2 linked regions of the Homo sapiens genome follow. The protein of the gene in region 1 interacts with the protein of each later gene in a pairwise test. Each region holds a gene or a part of one and is shown on either strand. Other genes may lie near its edges.

The links.
Region 2: the proteins of SPRY1 (region 1) and CREB5 interact in binary tests that used the Homo sapiens proteins (3 or more experiments, as listed by UniProt).

Annotation. Positions count from the first base shown.
Region 1 is NC_000004.12:123,392,366-123,399,954, reverse strand, and holds the start of SPRY1 (protein sprouty homolog 1), read right to left. Parts: upstream 3,161-7,589; 5' UTR 3,023-3,160; intron 2,345-3,022; 5' UTR 2,099-2,344; exon of another isoform or gene 1,442-2,098; intron 1,434-1,441; exon of another isoform or gene 1,138-1,433; intron 416-1,137; exon of another isoform or gene 161-415; intron 1-160. UniProt on the Homo sapiens protein: Inhibits fibroblast growth factor (FGF)-induced retinal lens fiber differentiation, probably by inhibiting FGF-mediated phosphorylation of ERK1/2. Inhibits TGFB-induced epithelial-to-mesenchymal transition in lens epithelial cells.
Region 2 is NC_000007.14:28,407,483-28,415,763, reverse strand, and holds the start of CREB5 (cyclic AMP-responsive element-binding protein 5), read right to left. Parts: upstream 3,247-8,281; 5' UTR 2,850-3,246; coding exon 2,847-2,849; intron 1-2,846. UniProt on the Homo sapiens protein: Binds to the cAMP response element and activates transcription.

The sequences.
Region 1 (7,589 bases):
AGTTGCCAGACAAAAAAATTAAAAGCAAAGAAAATTCGCCACCTCCGATCCGAAGAAAAGCCCATTTTCAAGCAGTGACAGTCTTGGACAAGCCCCAAACACGCTCACACGCGCTCGGCACACTGCCTTCCCCAAGAAAACGCGAATGGAAGTAGAATACCTTTTCGGACAATCCCATCACCATATTAAGGATCACCGTGGATTTCCAACACACTTTTTGGGTGGCCCACCAAGGTTTCTGAGAAATCATGAAGAGCCTTCAGCGTCCACGCGGGAGCCCAAAGCAAGCCCACGGTCTGGCTGACCCTAAGCAAGGATTTGTCTATGCTTTAAAGGAAAAGCTGGGTTCACCGAGGGCCGAGGAGAAAGAAGCCAGCGCAGGGGCGGCCACATTGCAAGTTACCACGGTGGAGCTGCGCCCTCTGCAATCCGCACTGAATAAATAGTTGACGGAAGAAGGAAAAGGAAAAAGTTATGAATGAAAACAAGTTCTTTCTCCCTCTCTCTGTGGTAGGAGGAGGGGAGGAGGCTGAGGTTACCATGAGCTCAGGAGGGCGGACTTCCCCACTTTTTTTTTTTGAGCCGGAGTCTCACTTTGTCTCCCAGGCTGGAGTGCAGTGGCGCGACCTTGGCTCACTGCAACCTCCGCCTCCCGGGTTCAAGCGGGTCTCCCGCCTCAGTCTCTCGAGTAGCTGTGACTACAGTCGCGCGTCACCACGGCCGGCTAATTTTTGCATTTTTAGTAAAGACGGGGTTTCATCAGTTGGTCGGGCTGGTCTCGAACTCCTGACCTCAGGTGATCAGCGCGCCTCGGCCCCCCCAAGTGCTGGGATTACAGGCGTGAGCCACCGCGCCCAGCCGACTTCCCCACTTTTAAAGTGGCAGTGCCCTCTCCCTTCCCCTGTCTTTGCACTGTGCTCCAAACCAGAAGAAAGTTGCGGCTGGCTTTGGGGCTGCCTAATTCTATCGAGGGGGTAATCGGCGAATTCCGGGGATGTGCCTACACACACACACGCACACACACAGCCTTTGTCGTCCCCCTGCTTGAGGCACACTCCTCCAAAGAGGGCCTCCGGGGACATCCCCAGAGCCGCCTGAAATCCCCCTTGGGCGTGAAGGGCTCTCCGAGAGGACAACCTGGGCCACCGCGCCGCCGCTCCGGGTAATCGGGGATGGAGGAGACCCTGTCCTGTTACGTTCCGCAGCCGCAGACCGTCGCCCACCCCGCCACCCAACCTTGAGCCCCCAGAAGCCGCGGCCCCCAGGGGGCAGGGAGCGGCGGGAGGGGCCGCGCCGAGCGAGGTCGTCCCTCCCCTCCCCTCCTCTCCCGGAGTCCTGGCTCGGGCAGCAGCGCCGCCGAGTCCGCACCTGCCGCGCCGAGCGAGCCCCGCCCGCGCGCCTACAGCCCAGCGGGCCGAGGGCGGCCGCCGCACACACTCACCTAGGCCGAAGCGGTGGCCGGGGGCCAAGCCGTGCGACCCGGCCCAGGTCCTGGTGCGGGCGGCGGCGTGCACGTGCCGCATCAACCGCGGCGGGGAGGGCGAGGCGGCATCGCCGGAGTTGGAGCGCCTCGGCTCGCGGCCTCCCCCGCCCCCGCCGCCACCGGCCAGGAGCGCTCCCCGCGGCCCCCTTCCGGCTGCGGAGGGCAGTTCTCCCGCGGCTCCGCGCGGCCGGGCCCGGACCTGTCACGGCTGGTGCTCGCCGGGCGGCTCAGTAACATCCACCTCGGGAGGTCTTCTGCAGCCCCTTTCCAAGAACCAGTTTTTACAAATCCTTTCAGGAAGGCTTCCCAAGTCTCAGAAAAACAAGTAGGGGAGTGGCGGAGTCGAGTGCGTGACGGGCCAGCTGACGGCACGGTGTGCTCAGAGAACTCGGGTTCTAGTCGCTCCTCGCAAGGAACGAAGGAAGGGATGGCGGCTTCCTGACGAGCGAAAAATCCACGTCACGGGCGTTCGAGACTCCGCAGCGCCCGGGTCGGGGCCCGAACCGCCGTCGGCGGGTGGGTCACGGAGCCGCGCAGTACCCCGGCGAAACCTCGGAGCACGCGCCTGCCAGGCAGAGGCTGCCGCGGCCGGGAGGGGGAGGGGGATTTTTTTACCCTTTTCTTTTTTTTTTTTTTTTTAGCGGGGAGGAGTGAAGAGAGTGAGGTTTGGGGATCCTTCTCGGAGAGAGAAAGGCGGGCGTCGTCCCTTGTGCCCCGCGCAGGCCGACGCGCTTAGCCGATTCCGCACGTTGGGCAAGTGGGGGCACAGCGTCCCCGGGCACTCCGGTCCCGGCAGGTCAGCCTCTCCCGGGCAGCGCTCACACCCAGTCCTCCGAGCCTGGGGTTCCACGGCCGAAATGCCTGCGACAGAGAATTAGAGATAGAAGCTCGTGAATGTCCCTTTCTTCGAAGGGCTGGGACCCCGGGCGGGCCGCTGGCCAGCTCGCCCGCAGCCCGTTGCCATGTGCTCCCTGTTGCTGCTCCCGGTGATTGACAGGCCGGCGCACAGTCGGCGTGTCAGCCGCGAACCAAAGTAACATGCAGTCCTGCACGTTTTTGCCGAGGTGCTTTTGCCCCCTGGAATGCCTAGGAGTTCAAACAACGTTCAAGCAACGCCTCTGCGCGTTAGGAATCAATACACAGAGACGGGAAATTCAGGTTTTAAACCAATGCTTCACTCGGGATTCGGTCGCCAACAATGCCTAAACAAACACGCATTTGGTCCACACACCGAGTGCTAGCCCCTCTTCGCATAAAGGCATTAACGGCTCTGTGTTTCACAAATTCGATCGTTTCAGACTTTAAACGTCTACTGTTCGGTTAAGGAAAGGTGAAAGGGACCCTGCTTTTTCTTTTAGCGGTAGCATTTACTTTAAGAGCATTAGTTTTAGCAGTGGGAATGCTACCGGTGTTTTGAAATGCAACCAGTAACCTTAGCTGGAAAGCAAGTTCAAATAAATAAATGTTCAGTTCCTTGCAAAAGTCAACATTTCTCACCTTATCTTTCCTAAAATGTCTACGGAAGGAAACGGTACTTACCTAATGCAAAGATTGCAAATTGCTTTTCAGGCACATTTAACAGCGACTGTAGCTGTTCCTTATCCAGGGCAGGGAACTGTGCTGATAATCACTCTGCAAAGCACGCAGTGGTTTGCAGAGCGGTCTCACTCCGGCTACGCAGAATTTCAGCTCCTTGCCTCCACCTCCACCTCCACTCCAGGACACGCCTCCGGTGATATCATGTGTCAATCACTCGGGCTGCCCGAAAACCTGGAACAGGATTTCCTTAACTATCGTTTCCTCTTTCGTTTATGTGTACCAACTTGGAAATGTTGCCCTACAGACTCGTGTAATAAACATCCTCTTAAAACTTCGGGAGTGCCTCTAAAAATTCTGCAAATGCAGTTTGTCATAGAGGAATACATTCGGATTTAGTTAGCAATCTTCAGTTGTCGATCTCAATTAAAAGGATTGGTGGACTCTACTCTTAAGTTGAATTAGAAAAGAATTGTGAAGAATAAAAGAAAATGAAAAAAGTTGTATGCCAAGCCATCACTTCTGACCAACTAGAGGGAAAACGTATATTGACACAAAAAGATGATTATATAACATTACAGTTCCTATTTACAACAAAGTTCAGAATATGTGAAACCTAAAGTTCAAAAGGTGGCACTCCTTACTGCAAATGTAATATAAGCATATGTAATAAAGGTGAAATTTTCTGCTGTGGGTTTTTTAAATAATTGCTTTACCTTGGCTTGTTATATGATTTCCCAAAAATCAAGCACATGGAGAAAAAACCAAATTCTTTCAATTTTGTAATATAGTTGTATAATTTTGCAAAAAATACAAACCCGTATATTTTTTAATTAGCTAAAAGTCAATTAATTAGAATAGAAAAAATTTATCAAGAAGTTTTATAATTCTTAGTAATAGCTGATATGACTGGAAAAAAAACACTTTAAGTAGGAAACTTGATTTCTACTTTCTTACAAACTATGGGATTTTAGGCATTTATTATCAAAGTTGTGCCTTTTCATGCTGCAGTGAGGATAACTTTTTGTGGAATTGAAGGTTCCGTAGAAACTTTTAAAAGCCACCTAAAGACCAAAAACTTAGTGGAAAGGAAATATTTTTCCAGGTACTATATATCAGGAGTAGCTTAAAGTCTGGCAAAACAAAGCAAACAATAACAAAACTCTAGAATCTAAATCATATAAACATATAAGTATGGAAATTTTTAGTTCAAAGTACATTTTTAGTCTCATTTACAATAGCAAGTGGTTCTGTTGAAACTATAAATATATACATACATAACACACACGCACACACACAGGACTTTCAAATGTCTGAGCACTTTCAAAAATTAAAGTTGTGTTTGGAATTGCCTCTGAAGAACACAGAGCATTGTTAAGAACATGAATAACAATAAAAAAGCATCATTAGAAAATAGCATAGAATAAGAATCAAGCCAAAAAGCTACATATTCACTCTTAATATTATGAATTGTATTAAAATAGGCTATTTAAAAGAATAAAATTGATTTCATTGTATTTTTTTCATAGATCTCATTAGATTTGGGGATGTAATGAAATTTTACTAGTGATGGATAGGTTTCTTGTGAATGTATTTGGAATAGACAAATCAAAAATAGACTATCCTATCAGAGTATCTTATTTGGTTCTTCAAAACTATTACCACAGTTGTGAGCTGAGAGGTCAGTTCACCAATATGATAAAACCTGGAGAGGGAGCACTGAACATTCTACCTTCATAAATCCTACAAAATATATTTGAAAGATTTCTATTGCAAATACACTCTATTTCAACCAGAAATGTATTAAAATAATTTTCATTAGATCAAGTATTTTTAAATTATAATAATCAAATCCATGAGATTTTTATCTAAAACACCATCACCATGGGTCATGTTGTATTAAGAAATTAAATATGCTGTACAGAGTTGATCAATAACCCTCCATGTCATTTAGCACTAAAATGCATTAATATGTTTTTCTCTAAATATTACATTACAAATAAATGTACGTATAGCTCTGTCACCTTGGTTCTAAAAGACATTGAATGAAACTTGCCTCTCCTGATTCCCCGCAACTATAAGACTTTGTAGAAATTCTAAATTTTTAGCTTAAAGTATACATTGTTTTTCACTTGGTAAGTTTAATTACATTGTAACTTGACTAAAAATGGATAACGGAAGTATGAAATTTTTCCAAAAATGAAAAACAATGCAAATATCAATGGGAAAAATCTTATAATAATTTTTAGTTTATTAAGATATGTCTAAATAAAGTGGAATGGAAAGTGAGCCCTGACTTGTCCTTAATTTTCATGTGAAAACAAGATTAGCCATCGCTTGTGTTAATTTGAGTTTTGAAAAAGAATAAAGTGAAATGAAAAAAATTCAGTAACTCCTCACAACTTCTAGTGATTAAAAAAAAAAATGGCCAGGCATGGTGGCTCACGCCTGTAATCCCAGCACTTTGGGAAGCTGAGGTGGGCTGATCACCAGAGGTCAGGAGACCAGCCTGGCCAACATGGCGAAACCTGGTCTCTACTAAAAATACAAAAAATTAGCTGGACATGGTGGTCTGTGCCTCTAATCCCAGCTACTCAGAAGGCTAAGGCAGGAGAATCGCTTGAACCCGGGAGGCAGAGGTTGCAGTGAGCCGAGATCGCGCCACTGCACTCCAGCCTGGGCGACATAGCTGGACTCCGCCTCAAAAAGAAAAAAAAAATTAATACAGTTATAGGAAGCTTAACTTATTCATGTATCTACTTTATTTGCCAAAATAAAAATAACAATCATGTGTTCCAAGCTTTTGAAAAATAATACGTTATTAATTCTCCTAATGTTTCTGTGAAGTCATGATAAATAAATGTATCACAGTCTTTTTATCTTGTTGAGAAACAAACACACAAACTAAATAATCACAGACATTGATGAGTTAGCTTATAAGCATGTCATAAATCAATGAAGACCGGTAATGGAAACTAAGTTCTCTTTACTTTCCTTTTAGGGCAATAGTCACTATATTACTATACTTCCCAAGAAAAGCTGGCAAGGATAGGCCATTTTATTTTCAGTTTCCTTTTGTAAACAATCTTTGTAGTTGACAGAAATAGACCAACCTATTCTGTAAATTTTCCATAAACATTCTCTTCATTTTCATAAGCGTAATTCTCATCCTTCTGCCTTATTTGAAATACGAATGTTCCGTATTGGTTTCAAATTCTGGAAGTGGGCAAATCAAGCAATACGTTGAGTAAATTACACTGAATGATTTGTAGTTTGTGTCAGCTCTATAATTCAACTAATCATTTGTGTACTTTGTCACAGGCGATTCTATTTTTCTGCAAGTTGTCAGAAAAGAAAGAAATATACCTGGACGTGTCCTAAATTGGTGCGCTTTATTTCTTAAGTGCCATATTCCTTTGGAGAGAATAAAAGTGACAAGAGTTCAGATAAACTGCATCCCTACTATATATTAAAGATTTTACTAATTAAACCCACATGGTAAGATTGTCTAAGGAAACATTTTTGCCCTACGTACAAAACAGTCCTCATTCTTACCTAGCTAATTGCAAAATAAATCCTGTCTTCTTTCCTCTTCCAGTGATGTCAGATGTTCCCCCCAAGCCTTGACTTGTTCTTTATTTTCATGAGAAAACAAGATTAGCCATCTCTTCCGCTGATTTGTATTTTGAAACAAGAAGTGGAATGGCCCTTATAATGATCACCTGGTATCATCTTTGATTCTGGTCAACAAAATTTATCAATCTCTCATTCCCACAACTACCTACTGCTATCTTAATCTTCAGAGACAAGCACGTAAGAATCTACGTTAAGTTAAACTTGTAACTGTCCCCCAAAGATAGCACAGTAAGAAAATAAAAGTGTGTTCTCATTAAAACAAAAACAAAACAAAAAAAGCATCTCTTAGGGCTTCCTCACTATAATATTTCCTATTGAAATAACCTACGTCAAAGGCTACAGTTTATCCTTTATTTGAACGGAAAAAAAAGTAGAATATTGATTTGATGAAACAACTATAGCCATACCCTTTAAGAACAGAGAATGACTAATATTGAAAAAAGAAGGCTGGACACGGTAGCTCACGCCTGTAATCCCAGCAGTTGGGAGGCCGAGGCGGGTGGATCACCTGAGGTCAGGAGCTCGAGACCAGCCTGGCCAACGTGGCGAAACCCTGCCTCTACTAAAAATACAAAAATGAGCCGGGCATGGTGGTAAGTGCCTGTAATCCCAGCTACTCTGGAGCCTGAGGCAGGAGAATTGTTTGAACCCGTGAGGCAGAGGTTGCAGTGAGGAGAGATCGCACCACTGCACTCCAGTCTAGGCGACAGAGCAAGACTCCATCTCAAAAAAAAAAAAAAAAAAAAAAAAAAAAGAAAAAGAAAAAAAAAAGAAAAAGAAAAGAAAACATAAAAAACTTCCCAAAAGAGTTTTTTTAAAAATATGTTTGCCAGGTGCGGTGGCTCACGTCTGTAATCCCAGCACTTTGGGAGGCTGAGGCGGGCGGATCACGAGGTCAGGAAATCGAGACCATCCTGGCTAACACGGTGAAACC
Region 2 (8,281 bases), on another chromosome or scaffold:
AGAGAAAAGACAGGTAGTAGAGAAAGTCACTGCCTTGTTCTTGAGACAGTCTTTCAGACCATTTTTAGTCCTGCCTGGTTTTTACTCTCAAATGAAATCTGGATGGTGTGGTTTTACAGGGTATGTCTCATAACAATGATGAAAAAAGGAGAATTTAAGTTAAAATTAATTAAGGAGGCCCTTATTAGAAAAAATAACATTGCAGATATTATATAAGAATGAATGAAATAGAAACTACAGTTTTTATGATTAAGGTGTTCATTCCAAAGATCTGATAAAAATTTGTCTTTGAAAGATTAGTCATCAAAAGGCTTGAAAAGAGTGAAGGATACAAAGTCATAGGTTATGCCCCATTCCTGACAAGGGCATTTATGGCAGGAGCACCCGACCTGGAGGCAGGGACCAGGCTTCTCAGCCTGGTTTGGCTCTCTCTAGCTCTGGGCCTTGGGTGAGCCAGGGGTCTCTTCTGTAAAATGAAAAATTGGTCTATCAATCCGAGGCCCTCCCCTAGCCCTACCATCCGTGTAAAGCCATAAGCCTTTGTAACTCACCATCAGAATCTCTAGGCCTAAAAGAACTCCCTCTAAAATCAGTTCTAGTCAAACGCCAGCCTGGTAGTTTTCAATCCTTGTTAAGGATTGAAATCCTAAAATCTTTTTAGGGTTAAGATCAGAAATGTAACCTTAAGGAAATAGAAGAAAGCAGCTGAAATACATATTTTTAAAGTGATAAACTGATTCTGATCTATTTCTCAGGGGGTGAGGGGGAAGGCAATACAGTGAACTTGGAAAAAAGAAATATTGAAATGTCAATATAATATCTTTTATGGGTTCAAGAATTTATCCTAAACTTTATCTTTTACTGTGACAGTCCCAGAGTCCTCAATAAGAGCTTCAAAAATTTTAGTGGGGTTTCTGGAAGAGTGCTATCACTATCTGGAAATTTCTAAAAGGCTTCTCTCTTTTTATAAAAAAAAAAATTCCTATGTTAAATCTATGATTTGTGATTCTCAACAATGGAATACTAATGGATACTCAAAAAACACTAATTGCTCATTTTTTTCCTAATTACGAAATGTAATAATTCTTTAGTGAAAACATTAAACATGATGTCATTTTTAAAGTGCCAGACTTTGTATTTAAAGCATTGCCACAAAATAGATAGCTTACTTATTTTACAAATAGCAACACAAAAAGGGTCTTCTGTGTCTTTAAGTCTGTTTAGCATATCTGAAAGTGCTTCTTCCTCACACTTAGATATTTAAGGCAATTGCCCCCCAGTTTATTACCTTATCTCAATTGTATAATTTTCTTAAATAGAATTCAGAGAAATAGTCATAGATTTAAATTTTTAAACACTAATTAAGCATTGGTTGATTCCCATAATACAGCTGGTAGTCAAAGTGGACAAGATAATGAATTGACTGAGATCACTGTTCCATCTTCATCCAAGAAAGCTGCCTCTAAAAAAAAAAAAGACCTTAAATTGCTGTAGAAATCCAATTTGTAAGAAGCAAAAGAAGCATATAGATGGGAAACACCAGCCAGGATCACATTAATTTTGTGACTAACTGCATTGCTTAGAAGAAGAAGAAGGAGAAGGAGAAGGAGAAGAAAGAAAAGATGACAAAAATAATAAGTCCACTCAAATCCCAATTTTAATCCAACAACATAACCAGAAGAAAATGAACTACAAATACAAAGTTCACATCTTAGTGATCTAGTGAACACTACACACCGACAAAATAATTTTTAGCTTAGTAAGAAGTAAACTCCAATGACAAGAAAATATTATAGGATTGTGATACCTCATTGCTAAAAAGTAGATTATAGTAAGAAATTGGGAGTCTAGGAACTTGCCATCATGGAAACTCCATGATTGATTGGTTTTGAATGTGCAGGTGTGGGAAACTGACAAATCATTGTAACAAAAATCTTAAACTTACTAGAATTGAAAATCTATGCAGGAAAAGTCTCTGTGACAAACTACCATTCATTTAGCCACCTATTCAAATAAAAGCTGTGACATAACAGAGATCTAGAAATAAGGGCATGGTTTCCAATTTTTTGTTGGAATGTTCTAATAAACTATCTTCTCAGGTATCAACTATATAAGGTCACGACTGACCGCTAATTGACAGGCAATTTATCGGCACCAGCAATTTACATTAAAAATAGTGGGCTTGGAGATATTTTCAAATATGTTTACTATGAGTTAAGTTGAAAAATAAAAACCACTATAATCAGTAAGGATTTAAAAATAAGAGATCCATATAAAATGCTATAAGCAAAGGAAAATGAGAAACATTTCTGGGGAGACACAAGTGAGTTTTATTATACTTCTTCTTTTAAGTTTTAGAACTAAAGTAATAGTTGATATTCAACCCATAGAATCATCCTTCAGGGGCATACACATCTAGGTTTGAATGCGGAAAACTGTTTTATTGTTTTTTTTTAATTTTTAGGTTTCTTTTTCAAGAACTTTCTTATTAAAACTTAAATACTTATTGAAGTGATTCATGAAACCTCACAGAAAGGGGAATTCATGCTTGACACATTACTTAACATGCTCCATAGCTTCCCCACTGTAGTTCATATGCTTCTGAACATATTTTACCTGGGAAATAATAGTCTTATTCACACACACACACACACACACACACACACACACATCCTTCCACATAAAATGCTATAAGTCCCAGGAAACTGACAAAAGCAACATTAAAATTTTGTGCAAAATCTAAACTCCATTTCTGAATTCCATCTATGAAAATACAACATTGGTTCTATTTAACTAAGTGCAAAGTTTTCTCTCTGTTTAATATGCATAATAAACATCATCCTTACCATTATCTGTAGAATAAAAGCAGCAACGTGTTGCTTCCTGCAGTCACCAAATCAAGTTTTTTCTTCCTTTCTTTCTAGTAACTTCTGTTTCACCAGCAAGATTAGGAAGAAAATAAGTCTTGAGTATTTGCCTCAGTATTTCAGACCAGAAGATAGTGAAACTAGCTTTTAGTAAAAAGAACAGGTCTGGTATTTTACAATTACTTCTGCAACCCAGAGGTACCTCCTAGACTCTGGTACCTCCCTCGTTCTCTAAGTTTCTTTTAGTAATGAGACTAATTTTTCCAGTAGTCTTGAACTCCCTAGATTTAACTGACATGGAAAATGTGACTAAAAATTTGTGGAACTGTCTAGCCTCCAACCCTACACAGAATCAACTTTGTTGTAAATGTTGAAGAACACCTCGCAAGCAGCTACATGCTCAGTTTATACTCCTGCGCTACGCAGCAGAGAACACCAAATAACAGTGCGCCATCTAGTTAGCAAGCTGCAATCTCCATGCTAGAAGGGGGGACACTTTCAAACCCTGGGAGTTAAGAACTTGTCAGGGTTCAGCTGCTCTAAAGGTCCAATTGTTTGTTTAAATAAAAAAAAATATCGCTACTGAGATAATCCACATCTAGTGGATATGGGAAAATTTAGGTTATAATGGCACTACAAACTTTTACATCTAACTTTGATTTACAAGATAAAAGCAAGTTTTAAATTAAAAGGGCTTTCTGTTAATAGAGCTTATTATTCTGAAGACGGGAATGATTTTCTTCGAAAGTTGTCCCTGGGTGCATGCCTATTATCTTTGCTTTTCCCCTTCCACTAATGAGCATTTATCTAAAGAGCCTGTTAATCCTCTGATGTGTGCTTCTGGTCAGAGGTAACAGTTTGAATAAAACCACTAATCACTGATCACTAAATCACTGATCATTAATCACACTTTCCAGTGCCCATGACTGGGCCATTTTTTTTCCTTTAAGTCTATGCATCACAAACAAGAAGTTCAACATTTTCGATGCACATATATTGTGTGGAGGTTACACTATTTCATCTCTAGATGTGAATAAATACTAAATCCTGCCACAGACTTGGGGAAGGATGTCAATTAGACCCCAGACAGGAGTTTCACAAATGCCTACCCTACAGCATGGCTTTCGCTTTGAAGAAAGTAGATCTAATTATAAGAAAACATGTGTTCTTCAAGAAATTCCCACATATTTGCAATATAAACTTTTCTTTATTTAGTTTTCACCAACTCCAAATCAGGGACCACTCCAATCCCCTCTCTCCCTCTATCCAAAACTCTGTTAATACTTTTTTAAATTTAATTTCTGCTGCACACCTCCCTCACGCCCCCACCCCCCCACCCCCCACACCGAGGGTTCTTTTTACTTTGATCCCTTGCAACAAGTCATACACAGGGTCTTTATTTCAACTGCCAGATACGGAGGTTCTGACTCAGTTCAATGACTTACGTATTCGACTTCCTCTTTCAACATAGAAACTTAAGGTTAAGAGCTAGAAACTAACGCACGCAGCAATTTATTGTATGGAAGTTTAGGTTCAACGACTCACATTCCCTCACTTTGGAAATGAAACGTTTAGTCTTGATCCTTTCAGCTAAACCTGATTTTGTCAGCATCCCTCTTCTGCTAAAGGGCAGGCACTACGTAAAGTGAAATACTTTGTTTGCAGTGGGTGTATTGCTTTCCTAAGTCACCACCACGAGGACAGAGTATTATCATAACGCTTGCAAACATTTCCTGATTTGCCTTTTCTATCAGGACTAAGCATTTTCGCCCTAGAGGAGAAGGCTTACTGGTGCCTTTCTTAAATAATACAAAAGGGCGGATTGCGCGCTGATCAGGTACAGTGGTCCCCTCAGACCCCAGAAGCTTTTACCCACACTCCAGGGACCGTGCTCGCCCCAGGGAAAGCTGTAAAAAGGCGGGGGCGGGGCTAGAGTGATAACGGTGTAGACGGGGGAGTGGTGGAGAGGGAGGGGCTGGGAAGAGAGGGCAATAAAGATGCCCAGGGAGCCGGCGATTGCACGAGTGTGTTGTGGGGAGGGTAGGGGGATGCAAAGCAGAGTTGCTTTGTCAGCATTCTAAGCTCCTGAACCCTTGAGGAGCTCAAGCCGTTAATCAAACACTTACTGGCCTGCAGAATGACGTAATGGACCTGTATCCAGTCTTTATTCCTTGACACATGTCAGAGAAGGAGGGAAAAATAAAAATCAAACACATTCTGCAGACTGACAACGAAATATACAAGTAGCCCGCTCCAGTCCCCGGCCTTGAGCAAGCATCAAGTGGGGGCGGCACCGGTCCAGGGAAAGTTGGGGATGGGGGTGAGAGTGTGGACAAGGTCTAGGGCTTTATCTACCAGACGCCCCTTAAAAATAAATCTATGGCAAAGAAGAAGCGGGATGCAGCTGCTGAGAGAAAACATCTCCTTGGTTCCTTCCTTCGCATCTTGCCCCTCTAAGAACTTCGTGAAAAGTTCAAGTGATTCTGCCGAGAATCTGCCGCAGGGGGAGACTCCGCCGCCAGGTCTTGGGAATTGCCTGGGCGCCGCCAAAGCTCGAGCCGGAGCTGTCATTTGGGGCAGCGGCCGGGAAGAGGTAACGATGCCAGCAAGAAAGCAGCGGAGGCAGGAGGCGGCCGGAGGAGTGGACTGGAGCGGACGGAGCCTCGCCGCTCTCCAGCCCGGAGCGCCTGGAGCGAAAGCCAAGCGCCCTCCGAGGGCGACCTCCCCTCCCCGGGCGCGCGCCCACCCGCTGCAGCCGGCAGCCCGGCGGGAGAGGTGGCAGCTGCAGCTCCGCACCGGGGAGAGCGAGCCCCCTGCGCGCGCGCCCACCCGCCCCCTAGGTGACCCGGCGTCCTCGCCGCGCCCGCTGGAAGTTTGCAAACTTTCTCCGGGGGTTCCGCCGCCACGCTGGGAAGCTGGGGACGCGGGGGGAGGTTCCTGGCTCGCCGTCTCCGCTGCCGCTTGACCGCACTTCTGGAGGGCTCCGCACCTTGCCAGGTCTCTGGAGGCAAACACACACCCCCGATTCATAACTGGTCCCCGCGTCAGGGGACTCGCGCGCTCCCACACACGCACGCACGCCGGGCGGACTCGGCGCCGGCTCCACGTTAGCATCCCTCCAGGCGCGCGGCGCGGCGGCCACCGAGCGCTCCGGCACTCACGCGGCGCGGGGTCTCTAGGGTGGCCTCAGGACACAGCCGAATTCCACAGTCTACCAGCACTCGGGGCCGGACTTCCCTCTGGTCCGCCAAAATGTTTACAAACACAGATCACCCTCCAGAAAAAAATGCATCGCATCTTCCCTACTCCTTGCCCTGTGACCTGCCCACTGGACCAAGTAACCTCGCGGCTGCTGCCGAGAACCAACCCCTGCAAACAAGTACACTCCCGAGATGGCTCCTGCGGCAAGTGCAACAAAAGTGGCTAAATGCAAAAGCCCCAGAAGTGGCCGAGCCGTATTTTTAGGAACTTACCAAACAAGTGTGGAGAAGGCAAGAGCGGAGCCCGGGTGAAGGGACCACGTTGGACTGAGCAAAGATTACAATACATTCTATTTAGAGTGCATTACATCACCCCCCCGGTGACGTCACGTGGGATTCCTGAACTTCTAAATCATTGCGGTCCGCTGGGGAGGGACGGAGCGAGGGGCGGGGCCGGCGCGTCGAGGGGGCAGGCCCCGCCCCGGTCCCGCCCCGACCCCGCCCCGCCCGCGCGGACCCTGGTGCACCCGCCCGGGAGCGGCAGCGGCGGGGGCGACTGCGCAAGCAACAGCTTGCAGAGCCCAGCGCCGTGTGACACGGCTCCCTGACATTAGTGGTGTGAGTCAGCTTGGAAACAATCCTTATGGTTTCAGACAAGACCACGGAGGAGGCGCGGGCGTGGGCTCTTCTGCGGGGAGGGCCTGATGGGGTTTGAAAGGTGTAGGGATGGGGGTAGGGGAGAGGTGGGGAGGGGGATGCTGAAGGATGTGGGAAAAGACTTTGCAAACAGAAATGCAGGACGCTCCTCCCTCCCCCACCGGAGGATGTCCAGCTCCTTTTTGCTTGCGACAGTCATGACCTCATTTCAGTGCTCCCTGCATCCTGGCTTTTCAGAGCACTCACTTGTCACCCCTTCTTCACCGCCCCCTCATCTCACCTCCTCCAGGAGAATAACTTCCTTATGGTGCACACTCTCATGAAATACACAGCCCCACCCTTCGCGGGACCCCTGCTTCATGCGTCTGAGAAGCTGTAGGGAGAGTTGCTCCTAAGGCGAAAGGTGAATCACAGCTAGAGCCAAGTGATGAGCCTGATTTAGACACGGCGTCAGAGCCGAAAGGGCCCTTGGCTGTCACTTCCAGAGCCTCTTCGGTAACTGGCCCAAGCTCACGGGCTGGGGAGCGGCAGAGCCAGGGCCAGACTGCAGGATCCGGGCGCCTGGTCTGCAGCGAGAGGAGCCTGGCGTCTCCAGTATCCGGCCGTCACCATCACTGTCACCATCCCCCTGCTGAATTTCCTTTCAGAAGTTCTCCCTTTGAGTAGGATTCAAAGAGAAGGCATAGGCTAAATCCAGCCCGATTCTAGACGACCAATGCCAACCTCGCAGCCCCTCACACCTTACAAAGCGCTTGCGACCACGTGATTTCCCTTGTTTCTCACACCAACCCGGGTACCAGAAGTAGGACAGGTATTATAATTATTCCCATTCTACAGGTGAGCTAAGGCAGACACCAGAAGGTTGGGGGCTGGCCTGAGATCACTTGATGAGCAAGGGGTGGCACTGGGCCCAACTCAATCCCTGTTTTCAAGCCCAGATCCCAACTGGGCTCCTTCATAGAGCCAGGGGTAAGCATTCCCTTCTTGTGGGTTATTGGTGGTTGGAACCTCTGCTAAGAACACATTGGCTGGGAGATGGAGCTTTGCTTAGAAACAGTTTAGCCCTCGTTAATAAACAATAATCATTTCTGACATTTATGTAACATCTGACATTTATATAGTACCTCTCATCCCAATGCATCACAACCATGACGGTGCAGTTTGCCAGAGAATCATGACTGGACTGGCTAGAAACTGTAATACATTGCCTGGATTGTCACATACTTCTGAGCTGGTTTTGACATACTAAATGGAAGAGCTTAGCATGTTGTTTCTGTTTTTAAGTGTTTAAGTGGCCCCTTGCCCTTTAGTGTTCCTTGAAACCACAGGGACTGATGACTGTTTGATCCTCACAGCCTTATTCAGAGTTCATCACTGAGTTTTCTACTTATTGTAGAAATAAAATCATTGCAATTTCATGCAAAAGGTTTCTAGCTGTCATATTACAGACTGAGATTTTTACATATTCCAGATCTCACACACACACACAAATCATTTCTAAATGTAAACTGAAGAAAAGAAGAGGTATTTATTAGTGTAGATTCTAGTGTCAGCCTG